3 separate regions of the Homo sapiens genome follow, and all the other regions are reported to be linked to region 2. Evidence: microRNA targets listed by miRTarBase, many of them from high-throughput screens and not tested one by one. Region 2 holds a microRNA gene; each other region holds the end of a gene's coding sequence.
The links. The annotated mature microRNA hsa-miR-921 reads CUAGUGAGGGACAGAACCAGGAUUC and lies in region 2 at 3,913-3,937, opposite strand. An mRNA with a match to its seed (bases 2 to 7 or 8) in the 3' UTR can be bound and repressed. Matches are read on the target gene's strand: a 7mer-m8 pairs with bases 2 to 8, a 7mer-A1 pairs with bases 2 to 7 and ends in A, and an 8mer does both.

Region 1 (7,104 bases), not on the chromosome of region 2:
CTTGCCAAGGCGGCCCTCAGGAGTGGCACTGGCTCACTAGGCTCTGAGCCTTCCTACCTTCGTGCTCAGGCGCAGCCATGGTTTGGGGCCTGGTCAAGAACAAAGAAGCAGGTGAAACTCTGGGACCCACTGCTGGCCTTCTTTCCTAGGGTGCTGGGGAGTGACGTAGGGCAAAGATCCCTGGGCAAGTGAGGGCACAAGGTGTCAAAAAGGCACCTTCCCTAGCAGGCGCTAGTTGTGGCCATCACCTGCTGCCCTAGGCCTGATCTGAGTCCTCAGACTAGCTTGGGTGCACCAGGCCGCATCTGGAAGCCCAGGCGGTCTTGACGTTGGGAGTGAGGGCCACATAAATACTCCTAACTTTGGACAGCTGGCCTCAGTGCTTGGTGGCCCAAGTTTGGGCACCACAGCAGGTGGGGAGGAAGGGTCCAGCCTCAAAGGGGGCACCCATGCCCTCTGTATGGGGCAGGCTTGGCAGATGGGCTTCGAGGGCACCTGTCAAAGGTGTGCAGAGTTGGGAAGGGTCTGATCAGGTCTTGAAGGGGACTGGATGCCTTGCTGTTCCCTGCAGCCAGGACTCAGCCCCCAGTGAGGTCCTGGCAGTCCTCCCTGGCTGGCGTTAGGTCCAGGGCTTTCCCTAGAGCGTGGGCCAGGGCTGACGCTCCCACCCTGGCAGGCCTTTGGGTGCAGCTGGGGAGGGGGCCCCTTGTTCACTTGAATAGCTGTTGTTAGGAGAGAGGGGAACCGAGGTGGACCTCTGGGGCATGGGGCTGGAGGTGGCAGGGGAGGAGTGGACCCGGCCAACCTACTGCTGTGGGATTTCTGTCCCTTTCCAGGCTGCAGTAGATGGTCCCATGGACAAGAAGGAAGAGTAAGGGCCTCCTTCCTCCCCTGCCTGCAGCTGGCTTCCACCTGGCACGTGCCTGCTGCTTCCTGAGAGCCCGGCCTCTCCCTCCAGTACTTCTGTTTGTGCCCTTCTGCTTCCCCCATTCCCTTCCACAGCTCATAGCTCGTCATCTCGGCCCTTGTCCACACTCTCCAAGCACATTACAGGGGACCTGATTGCTACACGTTCAGAATGCGTTTGCTGTCATCCTGCTTGGCCTGGCCAGGCCTGGCACAGCCTTGGCTTCCACGCCTGAGCGTGGAGAGCACGAGTTAGTTGTAGTCCGGCTTGCGGTGGGGCTGACTTCCTGTTGGTTTGAGCCCCTTTTTGTTTTGCCCTCTGGGTGTTTTCTTTGGTCCCGCAGGAGGGTGGGTGGAGCAGGTGGACTGGAGTTTCTCTTGAGGGCAATAAAAGTTGTCATGGTGTGTACGTGGTGCGGTGTGTGACTGCAGCTGTGGGGAGGGCTCTGCTTTCTCTCCTGCCTGGAGCCCCCAAGCGGCCACAGCCCTTCAACCTGTTTCCCCCACTGAAGGCCAGGCTCACACCTGTTCTCGAAGGCCTTGCCCTCTCTGTCCTCCTGCTCCCCGGGCTGGGCCAGGCCTCGCTTCAGGGCCACCCGCCGAGTGTGTGTCCTGTCTGCCTCCCTGGGTGTGGGCAGCTTGGGAGGCTCAGTAAACCGGCGGGGCTTCCGGGTAGAGGACTCGCTTGCCTTCTCTGGGTTCCTGTTCGTCACATTTGGGACAGACAGAACGTGGCAGAACGCCACTAGTCACTCCCTGCCCCCCCCCCCGAAGGTTTGCAGGATGACCTCTGACTAATGCCAGCTGGGAGAGGAGACTTGTCCTTGGCAGTGACCTGGAGCTGGCCCAGGGCAGAGCTAGGCAGAAAGGGGCTGGGAATGGGCTGGGGCCCTTGGCCCTGAGAACGTGCTGGGTGTGTGCCTGCCACCAGAGCGCTGTGCTGGCTCCAGGGTGTCCCTCCCGTGGCTCCCTCAGAGCTGTGTCTTCCAGGCCCACAGCAAGCCAGGCCAGTACCGGGGCTTCCTGCCTGGCACCAGTGCCCAGGCCCCTGCACTGTGCTACTCTCCAGTAGCACATGAGGAAGGCAGCCCCCGCCCGCAGCACAGTGCTTCCACCCTGCAGGGCCTCTGCCATGCCTGGTGTCTGCATGAGGACTGGGCGGAAGGGTCAGGGGAGCAGGTTAGAGGTGTGTCTCCTGGAACTGGGGGGACCCCTGAAGGATGTTGATGCTGGCAGGGTAGCTGACGGCCTGCTGTGCATGCTCGCTTCTGCCTGCCCTGTCCGGGCCCAGGCCAGTGGTTCCCTTCTCTAGCATCCTGTCGCCCTTCCCTTGTGCTCAGAGCACAGCCGCCTCATGACGAGTTCTGTCCCTTTCCAGGCGGTCTGAGAGGTGGTGTCTGAGGGAGTAGGGGACACGTGGGCGATACCCTCTGGTTGCTGTGCCAAGGCCGAAGGCTGATCCCACTTTTCCAGGAAGTGCTCTCAGCTACCTTGGACCTCCCTGAGCTCACCCTTCTCTGAGCTTTGAAAGGCTAAAGTCCAAACGGGTGCTTCCCTCACCAGCCCTGATGGCTTCTTCCGCTGTTCTGCCTAGGCCAGCAGCAGACAGAAAGCTGCACGAGGCCAGCTTCTGGAGCGCCCTTTCTAGTGGAGTGATGGAACAACAACGGGGCAGGGGGTGTGGGCACAGGCTCTTAGAGATGAAAATTGAGGTGCTTGCCCAGCCTAGACTGGAGGGCGGCCTGCAGGCTCGCGCCTTCCTGGATCAGCTTCTGTTCCAGGGCATCTGCACCCGTGGGCGTCCTGATCTGTTTTCTTACCCATCTTCCACTAGACTGCGAGCTGCTTGAGGGCAAAGCCTGCTGCTTGTTGATCTCTGTGTCCTAACCCCTGATGCAGGAGCTAAGTCCTGAGGAAATGGTGTCTCTATTTCAGGACCCTCTTTAAGTGACAGGCCTCTGTGAAGTTTCCTTTTTTCAATGTCTTTTTTCTGTGTGTTTAGTGTCATCGTGGTGCATGAGGTGGCTTGGAGGGCATTTGGCCTGGAGGTGCGGAGAACAATTAGCAGAGGGTGATTGTCATCCAGGCAGAGACTTGGCTGACAGTGTATAAAGCAGTTGGCCTGAGCTCAGGGGTCCTGAGGGTGACTGTGGGCTGCAGGACAGTTGGAGTCGGTTGGGGACAGGGGCTGTGTGAGGGCCTGGGGCACCCTGGGGAGAGGTCTTGCTGATGTTGGGAAGCACCTTTGCAGCTAAGGAGGGCCAGGCCGGAGATGTGGGAGCTGCCAGCAGGCGGGGTTCTTGAAGGCGCAGGCATGGTGAGAGGACAGGCTTCTCAGGGAGAAAAAGAAAACTGGAAACAGCGGTTGCTGAAGAGATGGGGGCCAGGGACTGCAGGACAGGCTCCAGAGCCCCTGGCTGAGCTAGGGTGGGACTGCACTGCCACTCCTTTCTCTGCTCCCTGTCTGGTCCGTGTATTTCTCACCCAGGCTCTTGGTTGGCCGTATTCCAAGCCAGGTCCCTCCCCTGGCTCCAGAAGTTTAGGGGTAAAGCCCCTCCATAGGGGGTGCTGCCTGCTGAGGAGCAGGGCCTCTGGGGGTTCTCCCATAGCACGATAGCAGTCCTGGGCAGGACGCAAAGGGAGCAGCCCAAGCTGTCACTTTGCTCTGAGGGGTCACCTGCTCCCCCTTCACAGGCTCCAATCTCTGATGCTCTCTGTGCTTGCCTGAGCCGCCCACTGCATTGCCTGCTGTGCCCTGCCATGGTGCCCAGCCCTTTGAGGGTGGGGTGCCACATGCTCATCTTGTGCACGGGGTCCCGCCCGTTGAAGGACCTGTCTGTACTCAGTGTCTCCAATTCCTCTCCACCTCTTCTCATGGTAAAACGCATATATATCATACATATATATAGTGTCATCAGTGTATATGTAATGAGCCATTTTCACCATCGTTAAATGTGCAATTCAGTGGCATTAAGTGCAGTCACAGTGTTGCGCAGCCACCACTTCCATCCACCTCTAGAATTTATTTTCTCAAACTGACACTCTGTCCCCACTCAACACTCCCCACCCTGTCCCCAGCCCCTGGCACCCACCCTTGCCCTCTGTCTCTGTGGATCTCCCTCCTCTCATGTAAGGCCCTGTCTCTCTCACAGGAGCAGAACCCTATAGCAAGTATCCCTTTATGATGGCTCATTTCACAGAAATGCCCTCCAGGGTCAGCCATGTTGTGTCGTGTGTTGGAATGCCTTCCCTTTCCAGGCTGGCTCATATTTCCTTGTCTGGGTGAACTACGTTGTTGTCTCTCCCTTCGTCTGCAGATGACACTGCGCTGCCGCCACTCCTTTTCTCAGTCGCACACCACCCAGCCTTTCACACGCACCCGCTCATGCAAGCCACCCTCGCCAGGCCCCCGTGACCCTTGCCAGACTCAGTGAGCATTTGCAGGTCACTGTCCTTCACCAGCAGCAGCACTGGACAGATGGAGCCAGCCACTGCTCCTCCCTGACCTGTGAGGGGTCCTCACTGGCTCAGGTTGCAGGACCCCACCAGGAACTCTCAGGCGTCCTCCCCTATCACTGCCACGTCTTCGCTCTGCCCCTCTCATTGTGTTCCGGGGCTTGCGGCGTCCCTGTGAGCTCACTCAGGCTCAGGGCTTTCAGTGTCATCTCTATGTGGTAAGAACTTGCACAGTTCCATCTCCAGTACTTTCTGGAACTCCTGTGTCCACCTGCCAACTAGACATCTCCACTTGGATGACACTTCCTGCATGACACACCCAAGGCTGACTCCAGACCATTCTCTCCTTGCCTCCCCATTGCAGGACCTGGCAGCTCCATCTTTCCTCTTGCTCAGGCCAAATCTGTTGTCCTTAACTCCTCTTTGAGCCCTGCATCCTGGTCATGCACAACCCCTATTGGCTCCACCTTCAAAATTGATCCCTGATGCAGAGTTATCCCCTCTGCTGCTACCAGCCTGGCCCAAGTGACACAAGGCACCTGTTCAGTGACAAATTCTTGGGGTAACATTTTGAAAATTTCAGCACCCATGGCTTTACGCCCACCCTTCCCCGCGGGTGTGGCTGCTCTCCAGCTCACTCTCGTCCTGCTCTCCCCAACTGCCTCGGCTCCAGGGGGACAAGGCCTTCCCCTGGGCTGCTGCCTTCCCTGCCCCCTTCCCAGTCCCCAGAAGGGTGCCGGCCGCAGAGGCCTCCAGAGCAGAGCCTTGCTCACGGCAGCAGCTCCAGCTGGAGGAGGTTCCCCCTGCCTCCTGTACCCCGACCCCTTCCTTAGAGCAGCAGAGGCGGAAGCAGGAGCCTGCTTTGGAAAATGACATGTTTTTATTGCTATGTCTGCAGTGGCTTTTTAGCACAGTAGAATGTCCCCGCAGGCCCGCCACCCTCACCCAGCCCCAGCCCTGCAGCCTCTGTCTGGGTGTCGGGGAAGCCTTTCTTGGGGTCACTCAGCCGTCTCGGGACTGGACGTGACAGACAAACGTGGGTTAAAGCTGCTACACAGAAGACTGGAGGTGCGGGAAGTGCATCCACCTTAAGCCTGGACGTGGGAGCCGTGTCCAGGGTCCCTTCCTGGGGGTGTGCCCCGCACAGGGTGGGAAGCCTGAGCAGGCCAGGTTAGCAGCCCAGACACCCAGGACGGAATATTGCAGCCTCTTGCCCCACAGACTTGTGGCAAAGGGACAGCGTGGGGACAGCCCCGAGGCCCCCACCATGCACTTTTCCAATCCAGTCTGGGGCTGGGGACCACACACGCACATCCACACAACAGACTCACACACGCAACAGCTCGAAGCTTTTGTTTTGCCTATGAAAGTTAGATCTATAAATTCACACTCCTTGGCTAGGGGCAGAGGGGTAAGGTAGGGCTCACAGGGATGGGAGTGGTAAGGAGAGGATGGTTTGGGCTCCTTCCTCTTTTTAGAAATATACAAGCAGAAATCTCATTCTCTCAAGTTTTTATAAAATGTGCAAAATACAAGCCTCCTTTGCCCAGAGGCGCCATTTACATCTGGCATTCACCTTTGCTAAGAGATAGAGATCTATATATACTCTCCGTACTCACGCACGCGTGCACTCGCACCCAAGCTCACACAATTGATACTGGTGGCGATTGGCGCAGGAACCAGAAGGTTCCATTGCTGGCTGGCTCTCTAAGCTTCTATAACAGGGATGGGGAGAGGGGTATAGCCCAGCTGAAATATTTGCCTTGGTTCTGCTGCCCCTCCCCTGCCTCCCTTCTCCTCTCTCTCCTCCCTCCCGTCTCTCCCTCCTTCCCTTCCTCACATTTCCCAAGCTGCCACTGCTGCTTCTGGGGTGAGGGGTCACCCACGGGTGTGCTGCAGAGCAGAGCCTGGAGAGGTGGGCAGGGGGTGGGCGTGGCAGGGGCAGGAGGAGTGCAGCACTGTGGGTGGGGGTGGGGCACTAGGCGGGGCCTAGGACCAGCTCGGCTAGGGCTGGAGGGGGAGAGGCATCTATTTTTGGTGGGTTGTGATATTTTTGGCGTTTTATTAAAAATGGAAAAAGTTGTTTTAGTGAGCACTCATGGTGCTTTCTCCCCTCCTCCCCCAGGCAGACCCCAAAAGTGTCAGGGAAAGGCAGGCCCCCTGGAGGGGTGCGGTGGGGCTGAAGCAGGGGCTGCTATGGCTACCAGAGGTGAGCTGGTGATGTGAGCTGAGTTGTCACATGACACTCTCCACCACGACGACCTTGCTGCTCTCGGACACTGGGGTCAGGGTGGTCAGGCCCCTGACATCTGCGTCCTGAGCTCGGTACTCCAAGTGGTGGAGGCCCCAGATGGGCTGGGTCAGGTGCTGCCAGCGCTGCAGGAGAGGAGGACATGCTGAAGCCCCCAGGGTCACCTGCTCGTCCCCACGGTGACTTCCTCTGCCTCTCTCCGGTTCCCACTGCCTGCCACCCTAGTCGGGGCCACTCCCTGGCTAGGAAGCAGGCTGGGTTGAATGTTCACAGCAGGGGAGGGGAGGGCGGGCCGGGCGGGAGCCTTACCTCAGCCATGGTGCCCTTGGCCCTGAGGAGGCAGCCCAGGAGGTGCAGCGGCACGCACAGCATGGAGGACAGGGCGAAGGCCCAGCCCATGGCCTCACCCCACCACGGGTACACGTAGGTGTTGTTGTAGACCAGCGGCTCGTAGTACACAACGTTGAAGATGAAGATGCCCTACGGACCAG
Region 2 (7,119 bases):
GATTACCTGAGCCCAGGAGTTTGAGACTAGCCTGAGCAACACAGTGAGAACTTGTCTCTACCTATATTTAAAAAATAAAAAAAATTAAAATATATAATAGAGGTAAATCAGAAATGTTTAGAAGTTGGATGGTATGACCCAGAACTGGGGTTTTAATCTGGTATAGAAGTTGATTTTTGCCAAGGAGCTTGCAGAGAGATTCACCTCAGTTCTGTGCTGGGTTATAGAGGATGGCATCAGAGAAGAATTTGAACACTTGAGACTGGAAACAAATGCACGTAGACTTGTAATAGCTCAAGAGTTCAATGCTACCCTGTAAATTGGCCTGTGCTTTTGAAATGTCTCAATGAAGACAATCTGACTGTCTCGTCCACTTCTTTCTCTCTGGTTACTCTGCTTCAGTTTAACCAGGGGCATTTCTGATAGAACATTTCTTCAATGTTTTTGCTTTTTGAGGATGGCATGAAAACATTCCAAGATTTTCCTTTTAGTGGAAAGTCGTTAAGTACTAGGGTATAATTCTAGATTCTAATTCTGATGACCAGACGTTTCAGGAAGCACCAGATGTTGAAGGTAAATCTTGAAAAAACCCTCCCAGCATCCAAGGAAGACTCTCCCTCTTAGAATAAAGCCCTAAACATTCCTGGGTTCTGATCCAGAAGCATCCTGCTTTTCTTGGCTCAGCAGTGAGTTTGTCCAATTGTTGGCCTAGGATCCCTCAATCTGAAGTCATTGATACAGCCACAGAAACCATGGCCAGATGTAAGTGGACAAGAAACCATCTTAGCTTCCAGGTGTTCACAAATACTCCTCAGTAGGAGCTGTACCCAAATGTCTCTGCTTCAAGTGCCAGACCCACTCAACTGTTCAACCATTCGGCTAAAGAGAATTAGCTGCTTCATGAAAAAGTAACTATGTACAGATCCCAAGGTTCAAGTTCAACAGATAGGGTTTCCGCAAAAACTTTATCATGTAGACAAATGCTACCTCTCCCCTACTGTTCAACTTTGACGGCCCAGTAGAAGGAATGAGCCCATTAGCACTAAATCCATACCAGTACTTAACTTTACCCCGGGCCCAACTCTCAGCCTAATTATACAACAGTCCCATCTCTGAAAGACTTTTCAATTGTGATTACGCAACCCCACAGGTACCCAGATTATCTAGAGTCTCTGTCAGATACAGGTTCTGAAAAGACAAATTTTCTCAAAGACATTTTAGAATCCCAGCAGCCCAGGCACTGGCCAGAGAGGAGGATGTCCACCGAGGCTATAAAGGGCCCTTCAGTGTTCCTAGCTCCTCCCCTCTCTGGAATCTTCTAGCTAAAGCCATCTGCTCAGCCATCCAGCTGGAGATGTTACCCCAGGGAGCTTTGCAGCAGAGAAGCCCGTGGTGGTTGTTGTTCTCAGGTGTCAGGGATAGGGATGGGAGCAGCTGCTAACCTTGCCCGGGCCTTTCAGTTCCACGCTGGCGGGATGCGGCAGGACCAAAGGTCAAGAATTTGTCTGGTCTTGTCGTGAGAAACTAGGCCCACCATAGCTTCCCTTGGCCCTGTCTGCACCCCATTAATTGTTCTCTTTTCCGTATTTTAGGATCTACTCTTGATATCCAGGCCTTTAAGATGCTTGCCCAGAGGACAACCATGTGCTTAAGCTTCTTTCATACTCCCTCTCTGCTGCAGACTTGCTGTGGATGAACTGGCCCCGGACACTTGTTGAATCAATCCCCCTTTAACCTGTGCCCTCTCCCTGGATTCCAAACCCCACATGCTCAGGGGAAGTTCTTGGTACTCTGGATTTATTTATTTATTTATTTATTTATTTATTTATTTATTTATTGATGGAATCTCGCTCTGTCACCAGGCTGGAGTGCAGTGGCGTGATCTCTGCTCACTGCAACCTCCACCTCCTGGGTTCAAGAGATTCTCCTGCCTCAGCCTCCCAAGTAGCTGGAACTACAGGTGCACGCCACCACACCCAGCTAATTTTTGTATTTTTAGTACAGACGAGGTTTCACCATGTTGGCCAGGATGGTCTCGATTTCTTGACCTCATGATCTGCCTGCCTTGGCCTCCCAAAGTGCTGGGATTACAGGCGTGAGTGCGCCCAGCTGGTACTCTGGTTTTAACTGTTCCCAGCTTCCTCACCAGACATCCAGAACTCTAGCTGAGTTGCCCCTTTAGATCACAAGTAATTTTCTTTATAAAGATCATCCATGGTTTTTGGAAACCCACTCATGAGATGAAAGTAGACGCCCAGCCAGGCTTGGAGGCAACGTGGAAGACAGAGTGACTCATGGGCTCCCAAGAGAAGGGTGAATGGTTCTGCTCCAAGGGTGGAGAACAGCTTTGCTCTTCCAGCTGTGGCTCCTTCCATATTTATCTCTCCAGAGAGAGAGGGGGAGCACAAGTCAGGGAGTCAATGAGAAGTGGGGGGATCCAGGGGTCTGGGGAAGGGCATCTGGCTAAAGCCCTGCAGCTTGAAAGAGTGACTATCCCAAGACAAGCAGAGGGTCAGAAACCAAGCCGGTAGAACTTGGGATGGACACAAAGATGAACAAGTAGTTCAAAGGCAGGCAGGAACCTGGCAACAAATACTGAGAATCAGGCAGCAGGGCCAATCGATCAGACAGGCAGGAGCCCTGTGAGTTATAGGACTTGGAACAGGACATGCCAGGCAGGCAGGACAACAGTGAAGGGTCCACATAGCCCAAGAAACATGAGGATGCCTCCTCCTCTACGCAGGTCTCCAGGGAGGGTAGAAGCCTGGTCCCAGTGCAAGCTTAGAGAAGGAGGGCCAGGCTGCAACAGGACTATGTAAGGGGGAGGTGGACCACATGACATCGCCCTGGATTCCCAGAGTCCTCATGACAGGAAGTGTGGAGTGGTACAGAAACTACAGCTTTAGAGTAAGCCAGGCAGGCAGTGATGGCAGGATGCTCGGAGGTATATACTCGTCTCCCTCTGCAGTCCTCCCTCTATACCCCCCTTAGATCCCAACAAGGGCAAAGCAAAATGGGGTGTTGCCTAGACCTGTTCCCTCCCATTCTTCCCCAACCCCACCTCCTTTAGGGTGAGCAGACACAGCACCATTTGATCATGCCCCTATGCTGAAATGCCTCAATAAAACAAAACAATGACAAAAGAATTGACTGAAACCAACTAAAAGCCACAACAGAGACAGGGTCTCCAGGCTGCTAGGATATCCCTCTCAGACTTCTCCCATCTGTTCTGCTCCACAGAGGCCTCCCAGCTGAGCCCTGCTGTCAGGGGAGGGCCCCTGGCCCCCTCACAATCTGTCATCTTTGACGCTACTTGGATCTTATTTCTTCTAGAGCTGCCAGGGGCTAGGAAGATACCTTGCCTGTGTGTGGGTAGGGGCCAGGAGGGCCATGCATGCCATCAGCACCAGGGCTAGGGTAAGGGGGGTATTGAGGGGTGGAAGAAAGGGATTCTGGGTTGTTGGGAATCCCGGCTAAATCTCAATTTCTCCATACTTTCCCCTTCCCTTGGGCTGCCAAGCCCTCCCATCTCCTGCCATCTGTGACAGGTGTCTCTGGGGAGACCCTCTTCTTTCTTGCTTGCTAATCACTGCATATAGACACTGAAAACAGGCTGGACTCTCTGCTCCTGGCAACTGTGTAGACATCCCTTGGGCTGATGTGAGTTCCTCTCTGTGCTGCCAAGGGATGGATTCTTCCTGCACCCTGTGCACTTTCCTTTCCTGGGCAGGTGGCCATCTCTGCCTGAAGACCTGGACCCTCAGCAAACCTGGCTGGGGGGCAGGGGCAGGCAGTGATGAAAAAACAGGGGGAGGTGACCACTGACTGCTGCTTTGAAGACTAGGTGTGCTGGGTGCCTCCAGCCCTGACCCACAGAATTAGCCAGTGATCCAGGCCCATGGACCTGAGTCTGAATCCTGGTTCTGTCCCTCACTAGTTGTGGCACTGCCCTTTTCTGGGCTTCAGCGTCCCCATCTGTAAAAGAAGCAAATGAGCTAGATGATTTCCCGCACCATCCTAACACCCTGTAAGTTAAAAATGATTCTGTTGATCTACCACTTGCATTCTTCTGGCCATTTCTCTACTCTTTAATCAAGACCCTGCTGTGACTGGTAGCTGGTAACAGTCACCTGTGAGGTAGCTGAAAGGACAGAGGACTGCCTCTGGTGCTGGGATGGTCCCCTGGGTCTGATCCCAAGACCCTGGTTTCATTACTATCACATCCTGAGCAGCTGAGTGAACCAGGCAGCTGGGAGGCAAGGAGACTAGTCATTTCCAATTTGATTTAAACCTTTTGTTTCCCAAGTCTCCTCAGCAAGGACGAAAGCAAACACTCAAGCAATATCCTGAATACTTCCTGATCATTCATTCATTTGGACATTCATTCATTCAACCCTTATGAGGCAGTACAACATCATAAGGAGTCACAGGAATTAGTTTGACCTGCTTTCTAAATCTGGCTCTGGCACTACTTAGCTGAGTAATGCTGGGCATGTTATCCGACCGCTGTAGGCCTCCGTTTCATCTCTAATATGAGGAAAATAATGGTGCTACCTACTTTACAGACAGTGCATCTAAAGCATCTGGCACACACTAGTTGTTATCATCATCAAGTTGAGTAAGTTGCTCATGGTTTCACGGGGAGACAGACGAGCACATAGCTGCCCATCACTCAGTGTGTGCAGGTTTCTTAGCAAAAGACAGGCTCCTTGGTTCTGAACGTCAAGAAAATAACTTCAACAGGAGGTTGGGGGTTAGTTTGTGGCACAAATCACTCATCCTTCCTAAAGAAAGTGAAGATGGTTCGTGGAAGCTTGAAACAGATTCTCAAATCATTAAGTGATAACAAAAAATCTATTCTTGAATTGATTTGCCCAGCTCAGGTGTGGGGACTGCCATTTTGGAATGGAGGCTCAGCGTGTGTGGTCTCGGGAGAGGGAATAGAAGGTAAGTAAGATCCTGCTCTCACAGAACGGGCATGTCTGATTCCCTTCACGCCTCTCTTCCCCTACATATCCCAGCCTGAGCCCCCATGCAGAGGGCAAAGCAACATCTAATTTGCCTGTTTCTGGCAGCTCTTGGACTTGCCAAAGCCTGTACCTGCCGCCACACATGCCCCAGAAGCCTCTGCCTGCTCCTTCGGGATGCTGCAGAAAGTGCTGACTGCGGATGCCGATTTACCGCTTCCCATTAGCCAGGCCTCTAACAGCCTCTGAGAGCCTGTGCCGGACACAGGCCCACCAGCCAGCTCTGAAAGGTCAGGCCCCAGGAGCAGGAGCCAGCCAGAGGCTTTGCGAGGCAGGCCTCGCACAGTGACCCTGTTGATGTGCCATCCTTTATTTTGTTTTAATAACAAAATGGCCTTATTTATCTTGTTTTAATCTGACAGCCTGAAAATTTCTCTTTGCGCTTGTTGAAGACATTTAGGTGGTCCTGTTTACCCTCTCTTGTCTTCAGACATCATAAATGATGCCCTTAAAAGTGTCCACATGCTGTCTGAGCCAGAGGTGCCCAATGCACATGGCTCTGAGGATGACCTCTCCCATCCCTGACTCCCATTCTTGGTTGGCTGATCATGGACTCAGTATGGAGGGCACTGGGAGAGGAGGTGGGATGCCTGAGCATCAGGCCTGAGTCTACCAGTGCTTGCCAGGATGACCTTGGGCACATAATTTAATCTCCTTAGGCCTCAGCTTGCTTATCTGAAATAGGAATAACTGTTGTCCTACATGTTTCATGATTATTGTGAGGTTAATTATGAGAGGTCCCCTTATAAAGAAAACAAAAATCATGAAAGGGACCTGCAAAGAATAAAGTACCTTAAAAATAGCTTTGGACACAAATGATTTCAGGTGTTGGTCTCACTGTCCCCCTAAGGTGGAAATTGCACAACCTTCCTGAGCATGAACAGCATGGCTCACATGCTCCAGCATCACCCCACCCTCAAGTCCTTGGCTTGGACAAACTGTAGCTCCTTCCCCCAGCCTGAGTGATACTGTTACCAAAGAAGGGCTCAGGGATAGGACAGGAAGTCCCCATAAGGATGTGGCTAGGCTGCAGGCATCATGCCTAGGGATTAGGAGCAGCCAGGGTCCTGGAGGCTTCCCAAAGTCTACAGCTTAGAGGAGAACAAGGAGGGTGACTTCTGAGTGACATGACGTCAAGGGGGCGGCGGAGGGGGGGGGGGGGCTCCAATGCCTTCCTCTGAGTTTGAACAGAAAACAGCCCTGGCTCCAGATGTACAGAGCAAGCCTTTCTCCTCCCCTCTATCTTTGAGTGGGTTTGTAGGGGAGGTTTGTATAGCTGACATGCCAGAGACCCCTCTCCAGAGTCTGAATGCTTCTCTGTCCAGGGAAGTTGCAGGGCCACAGCCACAACCTCCCTGTTCCTTAAGGCTGATCCACAGTCATCCTCTAGCAATAATAACGAGCATGCTCTGTAATAACAAAAATCACAAGTGTTGATTCCTAATCCGTATGGCATTAGGATGGGGAGATCTTATTACTGTCCATTTATGTACAGGCAAACTAGATGCTGGCTTATTAAGGGACCTGCCAAAGGTCATGCAGCTGGCACTGGGACCCAGATCTTCTGACTGGAACCCTGCGCTGGGGAACCAGCAGCTAAATCTTCCACTGGCACAGTGAACAGTTCCAACTGGCATGTACCCCAGAACCTAATGAGGGAGCAGGGTCCACATGGGCCTCGAGAAAAGGAACAGTGCAGGAATTCTTGGGAGCCAGAGGTATGTCCAATGAGCTGATGACAAAGCCAGGGGTCCCTTCCACCACCAGATGGGAATCCTTGTTCTCCTTCTCTTCCTAATCATCCACCCGAACAGCAACTGCCCGGAGAGTTTGAGGGATGAATAGCTATCCATATCCAGTACCTGGGTAGTCTGGGTGACTGTCTGCTGGGGCCCAGGGCTGCCCATTAGGGCCTGAAGGTGTAGGCACACGGCTAAAAGCTACAGCCCAGACCAACCAGCTTGCAGCCCGAGAACTGAGGATGTCGTCCCCCTGCTCCCAAGGAATGTGCTCCTCAGCATGAAAGGAGCTTATTCCCTGCTGTCTTTACTCCTGGCCCCTCACAAAGATATGGCTCTTACAGCTAACCACC
Region 3 (7,104 bases), not on the chromosome of region 2:
TAGCTAGGACTATAGGCACATGCTACCACGCCTGGCTAAGTTTTTGTATTTTTAGTAGAGATGGGGTTTCACAGTGTTAGCCAGGATGGTCTCCATCTGACCTCATGATCCGCCCGTCTGAGCCTCCGAAAGTGTTGGGATTACAGGCGTGAGCTACTGCACCAGGCCAGTTCTGGTCATCTTACAAGCGTTGTTTTTCAACCTTCCTATCTCATTCTCTTCCTGCTAAATGTATATGTTTTGTTGATTAAAGGAAATAAGACTTATCTCCCAAATTTACTGTCAAGACATTTGCAAAGTAACTGCAGTAATAGAGTTTAACCTTGGAAAATGTTGGTTACTGAGAATTATTGATATCTTAACCAAATTAAGCTGTTTATTTCCTTGGTTTAATGAGAACGTCTCAATATGCTTAAGAATATTCTTTTCTGATTTCTTTCAAATTATAGGTATTTTTTTCTTTTCTTTTTTCTTTTTTTTTTTTTTGAGACGGAATTTCACCCTTGTTGCCCAGGCTGGAGTACAGTGGCGCGATCTCAGCTCACTGCAACCTCTGCCTCCCGGGTTCAAGCAATTCTCCTGCCTCAGCCTTCCGAGTAGCGGATTACGGGCATGCGCCACCACACCCGGCTAATTTTGTATTTTTAGAAATTACGGGGTTTTCTCCATGTTGGTCAGGCTGGTCTCGAACTCCCTACCTCAGGTGATCTGCCCGCCTCGGCCTCCCACAGTGCTGGGATTACAGGCGTGAGCCACCACACCCGACCTCTTTTTCTTTTTTAATAGAAACAGGGTCTCCCTATGTTGCCCAGGCTGGGCTTGAACTGCTGGGCTCAAGGGATCCTCCTGCCTTGGCCTCCCAAAGTGTTAGGATTACAGGCACAAGCCACTGTACCCAGCTGAAATTATAGGTCTTAAGGCAATTGAGAACTTTATTTCAGAAGCTTAAGTTCCTTAGCAGCAGGAAACCCCATAGTATTTATCAAATCATTTCTAAAAGTATTTAGACCCAAAATTATATGACATGTTAATCTCTGAAGTAATTTGTTGTTTTGTATAACTTTTCTGTAATATATTCCATATCTGACCCCTGTTGGTATAAAGAACAACTATGCAAATCTGTTTTTTCTTTTCTTTCCTCCTAGTCTCTGCTGGATGAACCGAATCCTAACAGTCCAGCCAATAGCCAGGCAGCACAGCTTTATCAGGAAAACAAACGAGAATATGAGAAAAGAGTTTCGGCCATTGTTGAACAAAGCTGGAATGATTCATAATAGACAACTGGTCTGTTAATCTTTTTCATCATTGTTGTGTATAATTTACCTCTCATTAGAAAGGCTAACAAATTTTAAGTGCCACAGGTTTTAAGGATTCTGCAGAAAAAAAAGAAAAAAGTCCTTCAGTTTAGAACCTACAAAAGCTTGTGTATCTTGATTAATGTACTTTTTATTGCATGGTGTGAACTAAGTTATTGCTGCATAAATTTGTAATATATCCTGTTTGTATTTTTTTCCAAGTGTATAATGTTGGTGTGGAGTTTTCATGACAGAATATACACATTTTGTAAATCTGTACTTTTTTCAAATATTGAATGCCTTATTTTTGAATTCTTTAGATTTTTAAATTGGAGAAAAGCACTTAAAGTTTTTTATATATGAATATTACATGTAAAGCTGTTAAAATACATAACTTCAGTGCAAGAGACTTTGTCACTTATTTCCTTATGTGTGTAGGAGGGGTTAATAAGTCTCTAGCTCTCCATCTATTGATAGTTTCATTTACAATTTCAAAAGAACATTCTTATATTTTATCAAGGAAGTCTTCAAATTTGATTCTAAATAGCGATTATAATCTCCAACTTTATTTTGAATGTACCTCTATTAGTTTCAATTGAGTAATTCTAGACATAACTGGTTTGACTCTGTCCAACTCTGTATTTAGGCCATTTGTTACAGTTTCTTCATGCATTACTTACTGTTAAAACTGTACCTTTTGCGATTTCACAGTTGGCACTTCTGCCATGAGCAGAGAACTGATGCGACTTGTTTTGCTGCTTGGTAGCACTTTAAAAAATTTTTTGATTAATGAAGAAAGTAAAACCATAAACATTTGCCAAAAATTCATGCCCCAGTATTAGCAATGAATTAGTTGCATTGGTTTGAGAAAGGCACATATTGGAGGGAAATCTTGGTGTAACTTAAATATTTGAAAATTACCTTTAATGCAATGCATATCTGTTTATTCTGGGAAATGTTTTAATGCCAGGGCCTGCTGAGTTGCTTCTTCTTGTGGAGATTTTTTTTTTAATCTCCTGAGTTGTATAAAAGTTGTACTGCATCTTAGTTTACTGGATAAATTTAAAACACAGTATTGTAGAAAGCTAATACAAAACTATCCTATGCCTTCAAATAGTATAGAAAATGGAAAATATACAAGTAAATTCTGTTGAACCACCTGTGTAGTCTCTCTAGTAGTTAAAACAGCTATTTTAGTAACCCCAAGAGTTTCTTCTCATATCCATAAAATTGGATTACAGTATGGCAATATCTACAGCTTCTATTCATTATGCAACGTTTAACATTGATTGGATAAATGCTTATAGGCTGGGCCAGGTGGCTCCCACCTGTAGTCCCAGCACTTTGGGAGGCAAAGGCGGGAGGATCACTTGAGGCCAGGACTTTGAGACCAGCCAGGGCAACATAATAAGACTTTTCTCTACTTTAAATTTTTTAAAAAATTAGTTGGGCATAGTGGCACTTGCCTGTAGTCTCAGCTACTTAGGAGGCTGAGGTGGCAGAATAGCTTATGCCTAGGAGGTTGAGGCTGCAGTGAGCTGTGATTATGCCATTGCACTCCAGCCTGGGTGACAGAGCAATACCCTGTCTTTAAAAATAAAAGCTATTACTTGGCAAATTCTGAGGTAAGTGTATGATCTTAGGGAACTTTGATACAAATGGGAATTCACTCACTGGAATCGTGGCTCCCAAAAAGATGCTTTAATTGTGTGGTGCTTTTATAGTTTAGCTCCAAAACAAACTATAGACATTCACTCCAGTAACTCCTAGATTAAATATACAGTAGCTATGAGGGTCTGCCCTCTTATTTCATTAAATGCTATTTGGTTACTATTTCAACATCCATTTTTATCCTTGACCTGTTTTTGCCTTTCCCAGTTTAAAACAGGAAAATTTCAAGTATTGGTAGATAATTATAAAGAAGTTACATGTTACTTTACAGGGAGGTCAGTGAGTTCTAACTCCAAAATTCAACATATGCATAAAACTCATAGCATCCACATTCCTTTTCGAGAAAATCCTTAAGAAGGTTCAATCTATACATAACTCCTCACTTTTTTCTGCAGCCTTGGAACAGATTCCTATTTCTTTGGTTAAGTACCAGATATAAACCTTCGATTTACAAGGTTGAGTCATACAAAAAGTGTTTACTTTAAACTCTAGGTCAGTTTCATAAATGTATGGTAGGGCAAGAAGCTAGAACTAAAATGTTTATGTTGGTACAAAGTTATATTGATGGATTCATGTTAAAAAGTTTAAATGCATGTGTGATACAATTCCCTGTAACAATACCCCAGCACAGAATAATCTGTGAAAGGCACTATTCTAAGCACTTTTAACATATATTATTTCATTTCAAATTCACAAATACGGTGGCTCATGCCTGTAATCCCAGCACTTTGGCAGGCTGAGGTGGGCGGATCACCTGAGTTCAGGAGTTCAAGACCAGCCTGGCCAACATGGTGAAACCCCCCGTCTCTACTAATAATACAAAAATTAGCCAGGCGTGGTGGCAGGTGCCTGTAATCCCAGCTACTCGGGAGGCTGAGGCAGGCGAACCACTTGAACCTGGGAGGCAGAGGTTGCAGTGAGCCGAGACCTCACCACTGCACTCCAGCCTAGGCAATAAGAGTGAGACTCTGGCTCAAAAAAAAAAAAAAAGATGATAATGAAACTAGCCACAGATAGACAGATGAAGTGACTTGCTCAAGATCAACCAGCCAGTAAGTCATAGAACTGGGATTTGAACCCTATGTGGTCTTACCCAGAAATGTGCTATCTTTTAAGAGGTTGAGATTGGTTTTAGAAATTCTGCAGAACTTCAACATCCAAATTTGTGGAAATACTTTTAACTGATTTAGTTTTATACAGACTTGTGTCTACTCCAATGAAAAGGTTTCCTTTTTTTTCCGAGACAAGGTCTTGCTCTGTTTCCCAGGCTGGAGTCCAGTGGCTCCAGGCGGCTCACTGCAGTCTCAACCTCCCAGGCTTAAGCGGTCCTACCACCTCAACCTCCTGAGTAGCTGAGACTACAGATGCATGCCACCATGCCTGGCTAATTTTTTTACTTTTGTAGAGACAATGTCTCACTATGTTGGCCAGGCTGGTCTCAAAGTCCTGAGCTCAACTGATCATCCTGCCTCGGCCTCCCAAAGCACTGGGATTACAGGCATGAGCCACTGCACTCAGCTGAAAGGGTTTTCTTGACTACCATTTTCCACTGACTTTAGGAACATTTTCTGGTTTCTATATAAAGGACTGACTTATCAATAAGCCACATTTTTCCCCTTCCTGGAAATATCCTTGAGTCTGTAGGATTTCTCTCCTCCACCCACCCCCCACACCAAGTTTCATTAATATGAATAACTTTCCATGTTTCTTGTGTTCACAGAATGGCCTGGGAATTTTTAGTTGAGCCAAAAAGATGAATGAGCTGTGCCCATTACAAACCTTGTTGGTTATCTGACTGCTCCACAGCTCTAAATTCACACTCATGTAGGTGGAAGATAGCGGAGAAGTAAGTTATTAAAGGTGTGGTATTATTAACAGTTTGTTTAATGCTCATTAAACAAAGTTAACTGCCTACTTAGTTTATTCATTTAGTATTCTTTAAGAGATAACCCTGAGGATCATATTACACTTCAGAGTTATGTCTAAGGTGTTTCATATTTCAATTCTCCCAGGTTTTAAGAGGTAGGGATCAAATTTTGGAGTCTTGATGGTGTTTATGACAGTTCTTTTCCATTGCATTCAACAATGTAGAGTCCAAGTGGAATCTGAGTTATGTGAGAATCATGTATTTAAACAGAAAAGTGAATAGTTGGAAAGCTGTTCGCGGTAAATGAAATTATCCATAGGACAGAGGCCTTATGCCAAGATGGTAGCTCTATTACTTTAGTTCCCATCTAGTTAGGGGGGAATGAACTGTTACCAGATGGGGGAAAGATTAGTTATCATCAGTCATTCTAGCATATGACAGCAAAGATATTAGAAACTAAATTTTATTGTTGAAAGGACTTTTTCTTTATCGTTTCAACAAAGAAGACACAATTAAATGTGTGCCATTCTTCCTTCAGTGAATTCTCCTCACCATCACTACAGCTTTTTTTAAAAACAATTTTGTCAGAAATATCTTGAGCTTTCAGGGCTTCTTGTGTTCACAGGATGGCCTAGGAATTTTTAGTTGAGCCAAAAAGATGAATGAGCTGTGCACATTACAAACCCTGTTGGTTATCTGACTGCTCCACAGCTCAACATTAGTTCCTTGATGGCTGAAATCAAGAACTTTGGAAGAACTTGGGCTCCAGAGTTCTCTTTGGCATATGTAAGATTCAGACTTGTGTGAGAAACTTGCATATGAAATCTTTTGGGAAGTAAATGCTAAAGCTTGGCCACATGTTGCTTTTGTTCATCAGTGACTTGTGGATTAATATATTTGAGAAGACTCTAATATATAATAGAGTGGGCTCTGCCTAGAGAAAGCAAAGCCAATTAGAGAAAGTCTTCATATAATAGTAACAGTCTTGGTTACAAGTATGATCCTTCTGTAGTCTTTTAGGGGAGGTTGGCTCCTCTGAAGTCTTACTTGGAAGACAGATTCATAAAGTGCCACTGGGCTGGGAACTCCTGTAAAGGGAATCAAAGCCTGTCTCTGAAAAGATCCCCTGGGGTTCCATCAACCTGAACAATTTAGTCATTCTTCTGGAATGCAAGAGTTGTTCTCTACTGTGTCTTTAAGACTGCCAAAATGCAAACATAAAAGCACTTGAGGCAGATCCCCTTAAGAGCAAAGGGGGCTGGGTGCGGTGGCTCATGCCTGTAATCCTAGCACTTTGGGAGGCCGAGGCGGGTGGATCACCAGAGGTCAGGAGTTGGAGACCAGCCTGGGCAACATGGCGAAACCCCATCCCTAGTAAAATAAAAAATTAGCCAGGCGTGGTGGCGGGCGCCTGTAATCCCAGCTACTCGGGAGGCTGAGGCAGGAGAATCGCTTGAACCCTGGAGGCGGAGGTTGCAGTGAGCTGAGATTGCACCACTGCACTCCAGCCTGGGTGACAGAGCAAGACTCCATCTCAAAAAGCAAAGGGTTGGTTATGCTGCTTTATTTCTGAAGCCCAAGGGATATATTGCCCTCTTCCTTTCCACCTTTACAAACAAGATCTTTTGCCAATACCATAACCCACGAGTACAGGAGTGCTGGACTAGCAGCACTCCTGAAAAAGAGAATATCAAACAGAAAGGTTTGAAGTTCTTTGGCTGGCCCCTGTATAAAGTCATTGTATAAGATTGAATTGGAAATGTTATGTTTTTGTGTTGATGTTAGTACAAAGAAAACAACGGGAAGTTGCTTAGCTGTTAACCTCATTTTAAATCTAAGGGATATTTTCCCTTCCTATAGAAAAAGATGCTTTTGCTTGGCCTAATGACCATACTGGGCAGAGATCAGGGTGAAATCCAGAGACTTCAGCCCATGTTACTAGTTTCAGCTACAGGTGAGAAGTAGCACTGCAAAGAAAAGCTAAACTGGTAACCTTGCTGTGTAGCAGAGATCTTTGGTCATAGGAGTATTCCTGCATGGGCCATAAGGTTGTGGTTTGAGGTGGAAACTCCCTGAAACATCAGCTGGAAAGTCGCCTTTAGAATAAAGACAAAGAACCTTCTGCAAGCCAGCCAAGGCAATACCAGGACTTGGAGGTGGCAAGTTTGATAAACTAATCTGTAGGAAAAAGTTCCTATCTTAGTGCTTACACAGTTCTTTTTTCTTTTTTTGGTATAGACGGGGTCTTGCTACATTAATTCTTTGACTGGG

Region 1: miRTarBase lists SLC6A8 as a target of hsa-miR-921. Seed matches in the 3' UTR shown: 8mer at 6,448-6,455.
Region 3: the mRNA of UBE2B is a reported target of hsa-miR-921. The part of its 3' UTR that is shown has no 7-base or 8-base seed match.

Annotation. Positions count from the first base shown.
Region 1 is chrX:153,694,708-153,701,811 of GRCh38, reverse strand. It overlaps SLC6A8 (solute carrier family 6 member 8), which reads right to left. Exons shown (of 13, transcript NM_005629.4): 12 at 6,923-7,093; 13 at 5,224-6,738. The coding sequence ends at 6,598. It overlaps BCAP31 (B cell receptor associated protein 31), which reads left to right. Exons shown (of 8, transcript NM_001256447.2): 8 at 837-1,320. The coding sequence ends at 875. Among named protein-coding and RNA genes, the nearest start is that of SLC6A8, 10 kb to the right of the region's middle.
Region 2 is chr1:166,150,861-166,157,979 of GRCh38, forward strand. It overlaps MIR921 (microRNA 921), which reads right to left and starts at 3,938; the gene lies at 3,883-3,938. The region is part of intron 1 of FAM78B (family with sequence similarity 78 member B); the gene reads right to left.
Region 3 is chr5:134,389,080-134,396,183 of GRCh38, forward strand. It overlaps UBE2B (ubiquitin conjugating enzyme E2 B), which reads left to right. Exons shown (of 6, transcript NM_003337.4): 6 at 1,146-3,029. The coding sequence ends at 1,274. Among named protein-coding and RNA genes, the nearest start is that of CDKN2AIPNL, 19 kb to the right of the region's middle.